Linked DNA regions of Homo sapiens: region 1 is linked to region 2. Evidence: fine-mapped expression QTL. A gene starts in region 2. The other region holds a variant in brackets. All regions are shown on one strand. Distances are from middle to middle. Region 1 overlaps PIK3R6 (phosphoinositide-3-kinase regulatory subunit 6). Region 2 holds the start of PIK3R6 (phosphoinositide-3-kinase regulatory subunit 6).

Region 1 (9,016 bases), 31 kb after region 2:
GCGAGGTACATTCTCACAGCTACCACACTTCCCAAATGTCAGTTGCTTATTCTTGTACCACTTTCATGGTTTTTTTTTTTTCCCATGTCAACGTACCACTGTTAAAGAAAGAAATTATTCTGGAACTTATTAAATGGTAAGGAAGACTTATCCAAGACTATTGCATTAGGAAAGAGAAAGCAGTCTCAACTTGGAATAAAGAAAAGCCAGTTGGGGATTTATAGCCAATGAGCAGAGTGAAGGGGTCAGCGGATGGAAAATTCCTAAGAGGAGACATCAAGGGTCGGGACATTCTTGCTAAACTGAGCTAACAGGATTTTTGCTAGAGGCACAAGTCAAATTCTTATACATCGACGGTAAGGGATGAAGGGGTTCAGGAGATATCAAGAGTGGAGGACTCCAACCTAAACTGATTTGGCAGGATTCTTGCTAAAACTGGGATGGGCAGGCCAAAGGCAGGACAGGAGCCAGGGCTGAGCCCTAGTGAAGAAGAGGGCTAAGAGGAGGCTGAGTAAGGTTTGGTCAAGGAGAGAGTCTTTGTTACCACCTGTCCTGGTATGTATCTGATACGATTCTTTAAATTGACTTTAGATTTTAGCTTTATACTTGGGGCGGGGGGTGGAGACTACCAGAAAAGACAGGGTGCTGTAGGCTTCAAAAAAATAAATAAATAAAATAAATAAGTTTTAGCTTCATGCATGGATTCAGGAACTACTAAAAATAATGGCAAAGGCTTGGCGTGGTGGCTCATGCCTGTCATCCCAGCACTTTGGAAGGCCGAGGCGGGCAGATCACGAGGTCAGGAGATTGAGACCATCCTAGCTAACACGGTGAAATCCCGTCTCTGCTAAAAATACAAAAAATTAGCCAGGCGTGGTGGCAGGCGCCTGTAGTCCCAGCTACTCGGGAGGCTGAGGCAGGAGAATGGCGTGAACCCAGGAGGCGGAGATTGCAGTGAGCCAAGATTGCGCCACTGCACTCCAGCCTGGATGACAGAGTTAGACTCCGTCTCACACACACACACACACACAAAAATAATAATAATAATGGCAAAAACTGCAATTACTTTTGCACAAACCTAATAGTTTTTTATATATATATTTTATATATATATATTTCATATATATTTGGAGGATATATATATTTCATATATATTTGGAGGATATACATTTCATATACATATTTGGAGGATATATACTTCATATACGTATTTGGAGACTGTATATATACTTGATATACATATTTGGAGGCCATATATATATTTCATATATATTTGGAGGCTATATATATTTCATATATATATTTGGAGGCTATATATATTTCATATATATATATTTGGAGGCTATATATATTTCATATACATATTTGGAGGCTATATATATTTCATATACATATTTGGAGGCTATATATATTTCATATACATATTTGGAGGCTATATATATTTCATATACATATTTGGAGGCTATATATATTTCATATACATATTTGTAGGCTGTATATATTTCATATACATATTTGTAGGCTGTATATATTTCATATATATATTTGTAGGCTGTATATATTTCATATATATATTTGGAGGCTATATATATTTCATATATATATTTGGAGGCTATATTTCATATATATATTTGGAGGCTATATATATTTCATATATATTTGGAGGCTATATATTTCATATACATATTTGGAGGATATATATATTTCATATATATGTTTGGAGGATATATACATTTCACATATATATGAAAATACATACATGTATTTTCTAACATGCATTAAAATAAATGCATAACTATTCAGATTTTAAGGTCGTTTGTGTACCACCTAAAATTGTCCTACATACCACCAGTGGTACACATACTGCACTTTGGGAAATGCAGGTTTTACAAAGAACACAGAAACGTGGAAGGGAAGGCTATATTCCAGCCCTGGCTGGCATGCTGGCTGCCAGCTCTAAGTCGATTACTTCGGGCACCTCCTGAGGCTCAGAGAAATGGCTAAAGACACTCTCGGAAGGAATGGAGGTGGGACGAGGGTGAGGTTCAGTGGACTGAGTTTCCTCCCACCCCTACCACTGCCCAGATGTGGAGCTGGACCTCCAGAGGAGCGTGCAGGCTGTGCTCCGGGAGCTCAGCACCCAGGCCCCTGCCCTGCAGAGCAACCAAGGTAAGAGCCAGCTGGCAGCAGCAGCTGGTCCCTCTGACCTCCACCCAACCCCAGCCAACAATACACGCGCATACAGGAAAGAGCCCCGGCCTGGAGCTCAGGGGGCAAGGGTCGTCTCACCAAACCCCTTTCCTGCTGGAAATACCTAGAGCCTGAAGGACTGAGAAGGCTTCTCTGCTCCCTAGTTCAACCCTCCCAGCAACTGCCACAGAGCACATTGGGGATCTGCCACCCTTTTTCTTTCCTTTTTTTTTTCTTTTGTTTTTGAGATGGAGTCCTACTCTGTCACCCAGGCTGCAGTGCAGTGGTGCAAACTCGGCTCACCACAACCTCTGCCTCCCTGGTTCAAGCGATCCTCCTGCCTCAGCCTCCCAAGTAGCTGAGATTACAGGCGTGTGCCACCATGCCCTGCTAATTTTTGTATTTTTCGTAGAGATGCAGTTTCACCATGTTGGCCAGGTTGGTCTCGAACTCCTGACCGCAAGTGACCCGCCTGTCTCAGCCTCCCAAAGTGCTGGGATTGCAGGCATGAGCCACGGCACCCGGCCTGCCACCCTCTTTGTTAACCACCTTCCCTAGCTCCACTTCCAAACCTAATTCCCCTCAGCACTCCAGGCCTGCAGGACTTCCAGAATGTGGCTCGGAGCACACACCTGCAAGCACTGCTGCTCTGTGGTCCACACGCATACACCTGTCACACACCTGTCCCCACTGGTGTGTCCCACCTGCCCTCCTTTCTGCCCTGGGAATTCACTGTCCACAAAGGGCTACAGACTAGAACTCCCCACTTGGGAGGAGCCCACCCAGGTGCACCTGGAGCCAAGCGCTGGTGGCGGGGTCACACCCGTGGCTGGTCAGAGCTGCAGCTGAGGCTCCAGGGCTCAGGGTCCTGCTCAGAGGGGTCTCCTCTAAGAACTGCCCACCTGCTCATGCCGGGCTCCCCTTTCTCCTGGCCCAGGCATGTGGAGGTGGTCCCTGCACAAGAAGGTCGAGCGAGATCCCGGTAAGAGCCCAGTGCTGGTCCGCATTCTTCTCAGAGAACTGGAGAAGGTGAGTTCCTGGACCTCAGGGAGGAAGACGGGGATGAAAGGAAGAGAGGGGCCAATTGGGCAGGGGCTCAGTCCTGGCAGCGCTATATCTCATAAGCTTTGGTTGCCTGCATGATTTTTACCATATGCATCTCCCTCCTGTACTTTTACGTAAGCAGTATTTTCTTTACGTCGACTCTCATTGTTTTACTTGAATAAACATCTTTCAAAAAGAAGCACTATAACGCGACCACAAATGGA[A/G]AACCCGCATCACTTGTCAGAAACAGAAGGTACCTATAAACATAAATATACGACTATTGACGTTTCTCAAAATTATCCTCGGGCCACCTAAATTCTCCTTCACACTACCCAATGTTGTACTTTGCAACCGTTTGGGAAACACTGCACTCAAGGGAGGCTCCGAGCTGAGGACTTGTTTGTTGCTTTGCTGCGACTCCTACCCTAATTAAATTTGGCCCCTCACCTGCAGAGTTCTCTGAGGCCCCCCCACGCTCCCACACCCTCACTGAGGGGCTTCCTCACCTGTGTGCCCTCCCCTCCCCACTCCTCTATCCAGAGCAGACAATGGCCCTTTGCTCTCCCCCTGGCTGCCTTCCACCCCATCTCCTGCCCACTCCCAGCCTAGACTGCCTCCCGCTATGAAGTGGGGATTCCCCCAGCCCAATACCTGTCACGTGATCTCCTGTTTTCCAGGCGGAAAGCCAGGACCTCCGGCATGTCATCATTCCCTTGCTGCACACTGTAATGTACGTGCTCACCAAGGTGAGCTGGGGACTGAGGTCGAGGTGGTAGTGGTGACCTGCATGTGGCTGGGCTGGACACTCTCCCCTTAGTGGGCACTCAGTCTCCGCCAGGATGAGCCTAGAAAATCCCTTGGATTGCCTGCCCTAAACTGGCTTCTGAGCACTAGCCACCCCCTTTCCCTCCCATATGGAGAGAGAACTCTGGAGAGACAATGGCCTTGAAAGGCAGGATGAGGTCTTTGGGTTTGCTCCTGTGTGCAGTGCAACAGGAGACATCACTGATCCCTACACAGAGAAGAGACATGATACTCATGTGGTTAATGTCTCAGGAGGAGTAATCGGGAGCTGCGTGTTGTTGCAGCGGGTGGGAGTGGTGGTTAAGGCAGGCAGGAAGACCAAGTCTGGGGTTGCTGGAGAGTCCAGGGTCAAGATGGGGCTTAGCTCCGGCAGAGACGGAGGGCACACTGAGGTCGGGAGGGAGAGGGGGGCCTCCCGGGCACTGTGGAGCATTTCAGGCCTGTGGGATGCAAGGAGGAGCAAAGGAGACTGAGGAAGTGCCTCCATGGTTTTGAGCCTGGAGAACCGCAGGAATGTGCTTCCCTGATGGAGCAGGAGGGCTGGGAGGAAGTTGATTTGCTTGCATAACTTGATGCAATGAATTTTTATCTTGGTAAGTTGGGGCGGGGCGACAAATGGATGTCTTACAGGTGCTGGGAGAAGAGGCTGGAAGGTGTGGGTTTGGGAGAGAGCTGTGAGCCCAGGTCTGGCTGTTAGGCCTGACCTTCCACCTCTTCTCCCAAGCCCCTCCCCGGAAACTCCCCCGGGACCCTTCACCTCCCCCTCCTCCCTCTTACCTCCACCTCCTCCCTCTCACCTCCCCCTCCTCCCTCTCACCCAGGCCACAGGAATCACAGAAGAGCTCTACCAGAGAATCTATGCCTTTTGCACAAGGTTACTGACCCTGCCCACCCCCTACTGCACAGTCGCCTTGGACTGCGCGATAAGGCTGAAAACGGAGATGGCTGTCCCAGGTAAGAGTCACTGGGCATCTTTGTCTCCCACGCTGCACCTCCAACATTGCCCAGGGTCTTTCCTTTTTCTCCAGGATACCGGGGAGCTCAAAAGCCTCCACACCTTCTGTAGGAAGGTGGAGAATGGGAGTCAGAGACTTGGGGGCTGTTTGGCCAAAGTGGTCTGGTTTGCAGGGACACTGTACCAAAGGATGGTCATTGCCGAACAGAACTTGACGAATGAGCTGTATCCCTACCAGGAGAGGTGAGTGGCCCCAGAAAAATTGCTACCTTCAGCCTCCTAAAACTGTTGTGGCTTTAGTGACTGCTCCCTGGCAGGAGGACAAAAGAGGAGGCTGGATTAAGAAGAGCCCTAGCAGACCTCCCCAGCCATGATATTTGTCCAGCAGTGGGGTGCGTTTGCCATTCAAGGTTGGCGCCATATTGTTTTCTGGAGACCACTGAACACAGGATAGGTCTTTCTTCTCAGGTTGGATTGGAAGCTACCCTGCTCACATGCAGAAGGTGGACATGGCCTCGGGGCCACTCTGGGGCTCTGTCATTCCACCTCCATCCTGCCCTTGGCCATAATGCAGCATCATACCAGCCAGGCAGCCAGAGGAGACTCCAGAATAGCCATAGCGGAGGGGCTCAGGCGCAAGTGCACAATGAAGCCAGAGGGCTTCCATGGGGGACGCCAAGCCTCTTAGATAAGACTGAGGAAGTGTCCCCTGCTCGTGTTGGGGAGAGGGGTGATGAAGTTGGGAGCGGCACCTCCCTCTTCTGCAGGCACCTCCACTAACTTGGCCCTGAAAGGCACAGCTTGAGTTTGGGGTGTGAGGTGCTGAGTTCATGAAAGATGCAAGGAGGCCCAGGGCACCCATGGGAGAGGTGGGGAGACACAGTGGGTGAGGAGGAGGGAGTAGGGGAGGTTGGCTCTCTGGTGTGATAAGAGTGATGAAAGAAGGTGAGATTCACTCAGAGTTCAGAACTCCAGTTCTGGCAGGAAGGATTTAGGGTCCCTCCTAGAGGGTGACCTGGTCCCTGGGCCAGGATGCTGAGAGAGGGAGCAGGATTGAGGCTGGAACTTTCCTAAACATGGGACTAGGCCTGCTTTCCTCTGTGGACAGTGGATTAGAGCTGCCCCTCTAGAAGGGCTGTGCATGCTCTTATTTGCCACAGTCCTCACCACTCCCTATTGTCATCCCACCCAGAGACTTTTGAATCTGAGACTCCTCTTTTTAGCAGAATTAAATTACTTGGAGGTGCTGCACAGCTCTGAGGGTGCCCATCCGGTGGCCCCTCTCCCATTAGTTACTATCAATCCCACCTCTCCCCTCTGCTTCTGCCCTCAGAGTGTTCCTCTTCGTGGATCCTGAGCTGGTGTCTGCGTCTGTGTGCAGTGCTCTGCTACTGGAGATCGAGGCGGCCCAGGCGCAGCAGACACCAGAGACCTGCATGCGCCACGTGGTCTCCCACGCCCTGCAGGCGGCTCTGGGGGAGGCCTGTCACGCAGGCGCTCTGCACAGGAAGCTGCAGGTAATGGCCCTGCCTGCAGCCCCTTGTCAGTCCCAGCCCTCGTCCCTGCATGCCCATACCAGTCATTCACCCTGCTCTTCCTCCTTCTCCTGTTTCGCATCACCTTTTCCCCCAAATCAAAAATTAATACATTTTGGCTGGGCGCAGTGGCTCACACCTATAACCCCAGCACTTTGGGAGGCTGAGGCGGGTGTATCACCTGAGGTCAGGAGTTCAAGACCAGCCTGGCCAACATGGCGAAATCCAGTCTCTACTAAAGATACAAAAACTAACTGGCCGTGGTGGCGGGCACCTGTAATCCTAGCTACTCTGGAGGCTGAGGCAGGAGAATAGCTTGAACCCGGAAAGTGGAGGTTGCAGTGAGCCAAGATTGTGCCACTGCACTCCAGCCTGGGTGACAGAGAGAGACTCCATTTCCAAAAAAAAAACCAATAATAAGATATAAGATAATGCCAGTATTCCTAGCAGCAGGGTGAATGAGTGTCTCAGCCCCGAAAGCAGGAATCTGGGTCACCACAACAGTAGCTACTACATCATCTCACTCGGAGTCAAAGCCAAAGTGATTGCAATGACCTATAAGAGCCTGGTGTGGTGGTTCATGCCTATAATTGCAGGTACTTGAGAGGCCGAGGCAGGAGGATTGCTTAAGGCCAGGGGTTTGAGACCAGCCTGGGCAACATAGCAAGACCCCATTTCTACAAAAAGTAATAAAAAAAAAAAAATACCAGACGCAGTGACATGTGTTTGCAGTCCCAGCTACTCGGAAGACAAGAGGATCACTTGAGCCAAGTTCAAGGCTGCAGTGAGCTGTGACTGTACCACTGCACTCTAGCCTGGGTAACAGAGAGACACCCCATCTCTAAAAATAAAAATACAAGAACCTCATCTTGAGGGCCTTGACCTGTTCCCATCTCTCTTCATTTCCTCTCTGGCCTGTCTCCTAACTTTCCCTCTCATTTCCTCTGCTCCAGCTAAACAAGCCTCCTCATTTGTCTCCCAACATGCACATGCCTAACATACTTGCACCCCAGGGCCTTTGCGCTGGCTACTCCCTATGCTTGGAACGTTCTCTTAGATACCTGCACGACTCACTCTTTTTTTTTTTTTTTTTTTTTTGAGACGAAGTCTTGCTCTGTTGCCCAGGCTGGAGTGCAGTGGCGTGATCTCGGCTCACTGCAAGCTCCGCCTCCTGGGTTCACGCCATTCTCCTGCCTCAGCCTCTCTGAGTAGCTGGGACTACAGGCGCCGGCCACCACACCCAGCTAATTTTTTCTATTTTTAGTAGAGACGGGGTTTCACCGTGGTCTCCATCTCCTGACCTCGTGATCCACCTACCCCGGCCTTCCAAAGTGCTGAGATTACAAGCGTGAGCCACCGCGCTGGGCTGCATGGCTCACTCTTTCACTTCAAGTCTTTACCTAAAAGTCACTTTCGGCCAAGCGCGGTGGTTCACGCCTGTAATCCCAACACTTTGGGAGGCCAAGGCAGGCAGATCATGAGGTCAGGAGATCGAGACCGTCCTGGCCAACATGGTGAAACCCCGTCTCTACTAAAAATACAAAAATTGGCTGGATGTGGTGGTGCGCACCTGTAGTCCCAGATACTCGGGAGGCTGAGGCAGGAGAATCGCTTGAACCCAGGAGGCAGAGGTTGCAATGAGCCAAAGTCACACCACTGCACTCCAGCCTGGGTGACAGAGCAAGACTCCGTCTCAAAAAAAAAAAAAAAAAAGTCACTTTCTCAGGGGGGGCTTCCCAGATCACACAATCTCTTTTGTTTGCTGCTGTATCCCAGCCCCTAGAACAACACCTGGTGCAGTGAGCTATTCTAAGTGCTGGAGATGCAGCTATGAATGAAACAGACAAAATTCCCTGTGAATTCCTGGAATTCACAATCTAGTGGGGGCTAGAACATTGATCCAAGTGCTGGGTGACGCTTTCAGGAAGTGGGCGTCAGTGGCTATCTCTGCCTCTCTGGGTAACAGACATTGCAGACCAGTAGTCTCCCCATAATAGCGTGTGAGGGGCAGAGGGGAACCCCCACTTGCAGGGCAGGCATAGGGCCCTGGATGTGGGATCCAGAAGCCTTCGGGGGAAGCTCCTGCCGGGCCCCCAGGGGCAGCGGAGAGGTGTCACCTTGGGCTGCCAGGGCCCTGCGGACTTGGCTTAGGAGCTGGGGTGCGTGGGCGCTGGGCCAAGACCCAGGCTCTGACGCCCCTCCCCAACAGGCCAGCCCTCGCCGCACCCTGGAGCACTATTTCCACGCCGTGGTGGCCGCCTTGGAGCAGATGGCCAGCGAGGCCAGCCCGAGCCGGGAGGGACACGTAGAGAGGCTGGAGGAGATTTACTGCTCGCTGCTGGGTCCCGCGGCGGGGCGCTGCGGTGGTAAGCGACTGGCAGATGGGGGGCCTTGGCAAGAGTCCCGCGGGGGCAGCTCACTGCACAGCAGGGGGCGCCAGAGAGCAGCGCTGGACCTGCCTCTGTCTGGGTGCCTGGCCGACTCCCAG
Region 2 (9,016 bases):
CCAGAACAGAATCGTTTTGGGGCTGAGAAAGCTGAGGAGGGCTTTGCAAACCCAATCTGCAGCCCCTCAGGTTACAGAGGAGGAAACTGAGGCCCAGAGACTGGGAGAGGCCTGCACAGGGTCACACAGAGTGAGAGGCACGTGCCAGGATGAGGGCCCAGCCAGGTAGCCTGGCTTACTTTTGGGGGTGTAGCTCAGTGTGTGCATGCGTGCGTGTGTGTGTGTGTGTGTGTGTGTGCGTGTGCACATGAGTGGGTGTGTGGTCCTGCACATGTTTGGAGGGCAGGCAATTTGCATAAATAATGCAAGTTGGGGTCTTTGCGTTTTCTCACTGATTTCCTGGTTGACCCCAGCCATCTTGATTTGTTCCACTTCCTGGTGTGAGTTCATTTGGAAAAAGAAAATGGAGAGGGTGATATGCATATCATGCAGATGAAGAGACTCCTAACACCTCCCCAGCTCAGCTCCACCAGCAAAAGCCTGTCCAAGGAGGAACCTGCGGTATTAGGGGCAGAGGGAGAGGAAGCAGGGGTCCACTTGGTCTCCCTCTCAAGGCAGCCATGAGAACAGGGGAAATGAGAAGAGACCAGGCCCCGCCCTCCACAGCAACCCCAAAGTGTCTGCCCTCTCACCTCATCACAGAGCTGCCAGTACCAAGGAGTTTGGGAGAGGGGACAGTTGCACCCGCAAAAGAGAAGGAGGAGGTCACAAGGTTTTCTTCACCTGAAGGGCAGCTTTCGGAAGAGGGAGTGACTGATCTTCTCTGTGTCCTTCCCATTTCGAACCCTGTAAATGTGTAACTAGTCCAAACAAACATGTACATTTAAATGTAAGAAAAGAATGTGGTTGATCCTTATGTACCAATATATCGTGATCTTCAAGTAAACAAAGCAAGTTAAAGAGCGATTTGTATGGTGCTCACATGTATAAACTACCCTAAGCTATTTACCATGGTTATCACTGGGTGGGAGGGTAAAGAAATTGAGGAGGGGGAGGAGAGAGACCCTCCTTTTTTCCTCTTAGGGTCCTACAATGCTTGAGTGTTTTTATAATGGAAATATATTTATGGATTACCTAAGTAGTTTTTGTTCTTCTTGTTGTTGTTTGTTTGTGACGAAGTCTTGCTGTGTCACCCAGGCTGGAGTGCAATGGCACAATCTTGGCTCACTGCAACCTCTGCCTCCCAGGTTTGAGTGATTCTCCTGCCTCAGCCTCCCAAGTAGGTGGGATTACAGGCACCGGCCACCATGCCAGGCTAATTTTTGTATTTTTAGTAGAGACGAGGTTTCACCACATTGGCCAGGCTGGTCTCGAACTCCTGACCTCAGGTGATCCACCTGCCTCGGCCTCCCAGAGTGCTGGGATTACAGGCATGAGCCATCGTGCCTGGCCTACTTGACTAGTTTTTTAAACATTACAGCTTAACAAAAAAAGAACATTGATGGCATTTAAAATAAAAACTTCCCCACCACCACCAAAAATAAGAAAAATAGCTGAGAAGGTGACTGGTTGGATATGAAGCATAAATCCGCTTCTTCTATCACCCCAATTAGTCCTGATTCTGCATGCACTCTGCCAAATAACGCTGCTGGAAGTAAAGGATGGAAAATTCCCGAGGTGTGCACTGTTCCTCCCTTTCCACAGCCACAGCAGACAGTACTAGTTGATAACGGATTTCCAGGGCAATGCTGATGCTGCCAGTCCAGGGACTACCCTTAGCGAACCAGTGGCTTAGAGCATGACGCTGTCCTGCCTGCCTCTGGGCCGTGGGCAAGAGCTGGAGGGACTGCACCAGAGGCAAAGGTGCCCCGCAGTTGGGTACTGCCTGTGCCGAGGCAGTGTGTCGAGTCTCACCTCCACCAGGGATGAGAGCGTTTAAACTTAACCTATCTGTGTAACTGTAGCTGACTCACGAGGTGATTGTTTAAACGAATCAAAATGTGTTTTCCTAACAGCTCTTTTCTGGTTTATTACCTCTCACGGTTTTCTAAAAATGGGTCCTGCCAACCAGAGAGCTATCTGTGTGGGTGGCAGTCATGAATTTGGGGTAGAAAAGTGGGGAGTTGAGAATTAGAATGGAATTACAGTGCTCTGAATGGGCTTCGAAGACAATTTGGATATGTCTGTGAAAAAAATCTAGGAGGGAGGAACCGACGCTAATGAGTCAGGGTCACATGGGGAGAAGAGAGACAGGAAAAAGCACAAAAGCCCACCCCATTCCAGGCTGCCCGCTCCAATGGCATGGCATGGAGGAGGGACGTCGGGATCCTCAGAACTATCCACAGAGGATTTTTGAATAGTTTGCCAAGAGACGTGTGATGTACACTCCCTTCATCCTCCTACATAATCTTTAGTAAAATTGACTTTGCTTATTAGTATTTTATGTAAGTGGATTCCTTAGAAAACTGAAATGACAAATTCTGCCGCCTTCGATGCTGAATAATCCCAGAGCAGCTCCCACGGTGGGTGGCACTGCAGGTGAGGACACAAGCGACCCTGGGGACCTCTTTTCCTAAGCATGTAATTCTTGCCTGACTCCAATACTGTGGTCCTGCAGACCTCCGCAATGCTGGTACCTGGCCCTCCTCACCCGTGGCTCTGTCCACAGTTGCAAGAAGATTTAATTTTTGTTTAAAGCTCTCAGTGGCTTTGTAATGGATTAGAAAATGGATGAGGATGGATTGGAAACAGTGGTTCATCTGTAGAGAAGGTAAGTAACTTTGTAACCCCAAGGCGAGTTATGTAAACAGACTTCCAAACACCCTGGCTGAGATAGGAGAACCTGAAGAGAGGCCATTGCAGCTATGCCCAGAAGGGTCACCAGGAGTGGGGACCCTCACTTGGCAGAGGAGGGTGGCAGAAGGAGGAGGAGGAAGGGGAGTGACAATAGATGGTGGGCCTTCTGCTTCTGTATCTTGGGCATTGATCATTCTGGGGGGTCTTTGCCTCCATTAGCTGACCAGGTCATCTGGGAACTAGTACAGTGAAAGCAGGGAACCTTAATTTTTACAGTTCTGATGCTGACGGATCATTTGCCTTTTGGCAGGGAAAGAGGGGGCTGCTCTTTGGAGACTGGTGCAGATGAGAAACCTGGTAAGAGCACAGCCTGGAAAACCCAGATTAAACAAATCCTAAGAACATGGTCTGGAGAGGAAAGACATGGCTGGGATTGGCAAAAGGGGTAGTGCTGCCTTGCCTTGGTGATGGTAGGGACGGTGCACTGGGGTCCGTGGGGGAACTTGGTCCTTCCTATTGTCACCTCCTCCTCCCACTGTCCTTTGTTCCTGGCTGGCGGTCAGCCGTGTGCACTCAAAAATGAAAGCACCCTAGCTCCTCTTTGCAAGGGACAGCTCTGGGGCTCTCTATGGTCACCAAGCTGCCCCCTCTATGGGTACCACAGCAAATGCAGTTGCAGAAATGGCAGCTGATGATAAAGAGAGCAGTGCACCCACAAGAAGTGACCTCGGCTTGTGATTTCCGATTCAGTTAAGCCAAGGCTGATAAGGAGAGGCGCTGCCCAGGGTGGCCACACTGCCCAGCTGCTGCTGAGTCTGGAACCTGCAGGGGCTGAGTTCTTGGTCCTTTATTCTGTCCTGGGCGTATTCGTTTCCTTCGTTCAGTCACCCATTTGCTTCATAAATAAGCCAAGCATTCTCTTAACACTCTTTCACCCTGTGATGGACGGAATAATGAACAACACTCTAGCCCCTGCTCTTTCAGGACTCATTGAGGGAGGAACAAGGCAGACATGTGAGCTGAGAACGCTAATACAAAGATGCAAGATAGAATGTGACTTCAGTCACATGAAGGGGACAGAAAAGAAGCAGTTATGGGAGGAAGGCACAGCAATAGAGTAAATGATTTACATTTCTGGACTTTTTTTCCAAATAGCTTCCTCTGCAAAATGAAAGGTCAGCATAGAACCTAGTCAAGCCCCTACGGGAAAGGATCAGTGACTTCACAGCCCCAAAGCTCTCTGAGTTGAGCCAAGTGACAAACTCCAACAGGCTTAATCCAAAAAAGAATGGAATTTATTGGATCATGTACAATGAACAGTCCAAGAGTAGATTCAGCCCCAGAATTTCAGGCATAGCTGGATCCAGCACTCAAACCCTGCTGTCAGCAATCTGTCACTCTCTAGAGCCATTTACCCATTAGGCCCAACGGGATGACAGCATAGAATCTGTGAGTTTTTCAAAGCTCTAGAAATGTGTCAGAGACTCTCCCAAATAGTGTTTGACTTCAAAATGTGAAAAAAAGAAAATGACAAAGTAGCAAATGTGTCACCATGCGGTTGATCAACTTCCCCCAGCAGGTCTACTGTTCCTGCCCAGCACTGCTCTCTCCTAATTGCCAAGGACAGCAGATGCTTCTTCATTCTCTTCACCTGTGTCCTCTCCACAATCATTGGCGTCGTTGACCATTGTCTCCTCCTTGGCATTCTGTCTTCTGCCAGCATCCCTGGCACTCCACTTTCCTCCTGCCTCTTAGGCTTGTTTTTTTGTTCTTCTCTGATAAATAATGAATGACAAGGGATGAGCCAGGAGAAGGGTTGGGAAGTGATTCCCACAGCCTGGATAGTTAAGAGACTGCAGTACTTCTGGGAGGGGCTGGAGTGAGGGGATAAAGCATGAGGTTGGAGTTTAGGGAGGGACCAGATCAAGAAGGGTCTGGCAAGTCACACTGAGGAGTTTGGCCATTCTCTTTAAAGTAATAAGGAGCCATTGAAGGTTGTAGCAGGAGTGTAACATGAATAGATTTGTGTTTCACTCTTAGAAAGAGACCTTTGGCTGTGGGGTGAAGGACCTCAGGCTATTGTAGTGTTTCAGGAGAAAGACCATGGTAGTCAGGTGAAACAGTGACAGCCATAGGGATGGAAGAAAGTGGAGGATCCATGACCTATTGACAGGGCTTGGTGCAGTTTAGATGTAACAGGCGAGGAAGAGGGAGGCGTTAGGATGATACCGAGGTTGCTGATTCTGAGGCAGGAAACAGAGAAGTGGGCTTAGAGGGAGAAATGATGAGCTCGGTTTGTACCTGTTGAGATGGAGGTGCTTGAGGGACATCTGGCTGGCCATGTCCAGGGGTGGGGGATGGTTGGTGAGTCTGGAGCTTGAGAGAGAGGTCAGGGCTCCCTGCATCAGTCCCTCCCCCGTCAACACCAGAGGGAGTCTCTTGGGAGGTGTCCCCCTCCTGCCCCATAAAATTGGTCACATTCGATCAGAATAAAGGACCTCCAGTGACCGTGGGTCATGCTTCTTTAGAAAGGATCCTCACAGCAAAATGCATTCTGGGAGGAGCTTCGAGGGCCACAAGGAAGGGGAAGGAAGAGGAGGGGACAGAGCTGTGAGACATCGAGCTTTTCTTTGCAGATCTGAAGAGCACAGTCAAGACCACAGACACCCGTGGAGGCTCCCCCAAGACATCTGCTTCTCTGGGACTGGGGACCTCGCTCAGGACCGTGGGGAGTTGGCTGAAGGACTTGGGGAGCCCAGAAGCTGCCACCGAACCAAGGTAAGTGCTGGCTTGGATGGAGATCGCCAGGCAGGCAGATCTGAGCAGAACAGATAGAGGGGTGGAACGGAGGGACCTGGAAGGGGAGCCCCTGGGGGGGCTGAAACACCCCTGGCTCTTATTTATCCAGGCTCAGGGCTGCCAGGGCCGTCTTTCTGAGAAGGGTGACCTCAGACACTGCAGGGTAATTCTGCCAAGTTAAGATTGTTTCAGCCCATTTTCACAAGATGAAAAGACACGGGACCCTGTGAGAAGGACTCTCCTTTCTTCTGGAATCCTGTACATGCTGTTAATAATAGGACTAATGATTGATGCCCGGTGCTGCAGAGTACACCCATTTTCCCATTTGATTCTCACCAGCATTTAGAGGTTGACTGGATAAGTGTTTTAGTGCCATTTTATAGAACAGAAGACTGAGGCTTAGGGAGATGAAGCAACTTGCCAAAGATTGCAGAGTGGGTTAGCAAGGAGCAGGACTCAGTGTGAAACATCTGGGTCCCAGTCTGTGCCCTTTCTGGGACATCATCTGCCCATCACTTTCCTGGGGAATTTGGTGAAAGTCATGCTGGTCTGGCTGATTCTCTTCCTATACACAAATCCAGTATCTTCTATGTGTGCCAGAGTCTGACCGAGGCCTGGTCTCTGTCCTTGAAGGGCTGACTGCTTGCAAAGAGGGTCTGAACACAGCTGCGAGTGACCAACTCAGAACCTTCAGGGTCCTCAGCGAGCCAGGAGGTGTGTGGTGTGTGCAGGATGAAAGAGACTGCAGGGTGCGGGCTCAGGGAGGGTCCCGTGGAAGGTGGTGCCTGGCTGAGGCTCAAGGGAGGACCTGGTGTGCAAAGAGGAGGCAAGAGGCACCTCAGCAATGGGGAGCAAAGTGTGCAAACCCCCAGAGGCAGGAAAGCAAGTGGGAAAGTCAGGTGTTGGGGGGAGCACAGCTAGAGGGGGTGTGTGGAGCACTCGCAGGCCGGTCCTTTTTTGTTGTTGTTGAGACAGTCTCACGCTTTTGCGCAGGCTGGAGTGTAGTGGTGCGATCTCGGCTCACTGCAACCTCCGTCTCCTGGGTTCAAGCGATTCTCCTGCCTCAGCCTCCCAAGTAGCTGGGACTACAGGCACACACCACCACGCCTGGCTAATTTTTTGTATTTTTAGTAGTAATTTTTTGTGTTTTCACCGTGTTAGCCAGGATGGTCTTGATCTCCTGACCTCGTGATCCACCCACCTCGGCCTCCCATAGTGCTGGGATTACAGGCATGAGCCACAGCGCCTGGCCCGGTCCATTTATTTATTTAGCTCTATGTGGTTTTCAAATATCATCTCATTTAGTCTCATGACAAGCCTATGAGGTAGGTGTTGTTGTCAGGTCCCCTTTAAGATAGGGAAACTGAGGCACGGAGGTTTTAAGCAAGCAGCCCAAGTTGCCCTATTAACAGGATTGGAATGCCACCTGCCTGGCCACCATGCCCCGCTGCCTCACACTAGAACCTGCTGCAGGCCCTACACTGTCTCCACGAAAGCGCCTCGGCTGACACGGTGGCTGCAGATGCCAAGCTGCAGTCATCGCCATCTGGTCCCTGCTGCATTCAGGCCCCACCTGAATTCAGATCCCACCAAGCTTCCCTGCCCCTGGGAACAATGCTCCCCCACCCCCACCCCACTGGCTCTTTCATATCCAGGTGTTTCCTTCCAGCCAGAAGCAGACACAGCTGAGGAAACAGGCCTGTCCTTGTCCACGGGGGCCAGCCAGGGCAGCAGGACCCTCACCTCCCGGCTCCTTGGGAATCTGAGAAGTAGACCTCATGGGGGCAAGGGCTAAAGGTTGAGGGGGCCCCCTCAGGACCCAGAGCTCTGTCCTCTCACTCCCTTAGTCCCTCACTGCCAGCTCACTCACCACACGCTCCGATCCAAAAAAAAAAAAAACACAGCTATGACGTCTGGCAAGCCTGAGCTGCCCCTGAAACCCTGAGGGCACGAGGCAGCTCTGGTGGGAGAAGAGGGGAGGCAACAGAGGCAGGTGACCCAGGCTCTGCAGGTCCCCTCTCTCTGTGCCACAGGAGTGGCTGGAGGACAGGAGGCAGACAGAGTGTGGCCCTGGGAAGCTCCCCGTCTTTTCTGCCAGGGCTTTATTCCTGCAGCTGTGGTATAGGGAGGCCTGGAAGCTCCACATCTTTTCTGCCCAGGCTTTATTCCTGCAGGTATAGGGAGGCCTAGGTGGTGGGTTCTTCTGTCTGAACAGCTTGTCCGAGAAGCCAGCAATGGTGAGCTGGGGGGATGGGGGCACAAGGGACAGTCAGATCTGGAATCTTCATGTTCAGAATCTTCAGGTTCAGAAACTCTGAACCTGAGCCAGGCTTCCTCAGATCTTCCTCCAAGCCCTCTTACTTCAGTCTTCTCCTCTATCCAGGAGGTCACCCCCACTTTATCTCACACCAACAACAGGGAGCAGCAGCTGTGAACAGGTGGTCCCCATTTGCTTCTTTTTGCCGTGTCCATAGAAGGCTTCTATGGTTCTGTGGTCAGTCCTTGGGCTTGTTGTACCCCAAGGGAGTGATGAGCTGTGTGTGTGCACCTGGCCTGCGACTTGTTCAGTGCTGATGTTCTGTGTTTAAGGAAGAATGCTCTCTGAATCCCAATTCATTCATCCCTTCATTCTTTGTCTCTGATCTCATCCCTCTGCCAGGAACTGTGAAGGGGCTGGGTGCGGTGGCTCACGCCTGTAATCCCAGCACTTTGGGAGGCCGAGGTGGGTGGATCACGAGGTCAAGAGATCGAGACCATCCTGGCCAACACGGTGAAACCCCGTCTCTACTAAAAATACAACAAATTAGCTGGGCGTGGTGGCGGGCGCCTGTGGTCCCAGGTACTCGGGAGGCTGAGGCTGGAGAATCACCTGAACCCAGTAGGCAGAGGTTGCAGTGAGACGAGATTGCGCCACTGCACTCCAGTCTGGCGACAGAGTGAGACTCTGTCTAAAAAAAAAAAAAAAAAAAAAAAAAAAAGAGCTGTGAAGGACCTGGGTTATAAGTTAGAAGGATCTGTTAGTTATAAGTTAACTTAGAACTAACAAGTTAGCCCACCACAGCTTCATGGTCACCAGCAGAAGACATGAGACTCCAGAGTCAGAGACAAAGAACTCTATTACTCACAGCACAACTAGGAGCATGAACATTGTGATTATAGGTCCCCCTTTCCCCTAAGTCCTAGGGGCGCCGCAAGGAGCCCAATCCAAATGGACTCTGTTGCATCATAGCCCAGGAACCCTGAGCCTAGGAAACCCCAAATTTTCATGACGAGCTGCAAACAAACCTGCCCAACTTTTACCCTGAAAGGAGACATTATCTCTATTATATTGACAGCAAATTAGTCTTCTGTCCTAGAATGGACAGTATCTTCCAAGGCTGTTTGCTATACAAACGTATTTGAAAAGATGGTGCAGAAGAATGCTCACCAGGCATGCACAAACAGAAACCTATGGAGAATTGTCTCCCAACATCTTCCTAGT

Evidence for each region.
Region 1: its variant is fine-mapped to the expression of PIK3R6 in whole blood (INTERVAL, PIP above 0.99).

What each region holds. Positions count from the first base shown.
Region 1 is chr17:8,832,767-8,841,782 of GRCh38, reverse strand. It overlaps PIK3R6 (phosphoinositide-3-kinase regulatory subunit 6), which reads left to right. Exons shown (of 20, transcript NM_001010855.4): 3 at 2,086-2,169; 4 at 3,128-3,219; 5 at 3,912-3,980; 6 at 4,860-4,992; 7 at 5,167-5,236; 8 at 6,327-6,510; 9 at 8,738-8,894. Among named protein-coding and RNA genes, the nearest start is that of PIK3R6, 30 kb to the left of the region's middle. RefSeq lists enhancers at 4,151-4,957, 8,483-8,562. The variant A/G (reference allele first, on the strand shown) is at 3,459.
Region 2 is chr17:8,864,027-8,873,042 of GRCh38, reverse strand. PIK3R6 (phosphoinositide-3-kinase regulatory subunit 6) reads left to right here and starts at 5,369. Exons shown (of 20, transcript NM_001010855.4): 1 at 5,369-5,514. LOC107985071 (a long non-coding RNA gene) reads right to left here and starts at 5,269. Exons shown (of 2, transcript XR_001752787.2): 1 at 5,038-5,269; 2 at 4,010-4,511. RefSeq lists enhancers at 5,241-5,390, 5,421-5,600, 7,424-7,773, 7,884-8,023, 8,074-8,143.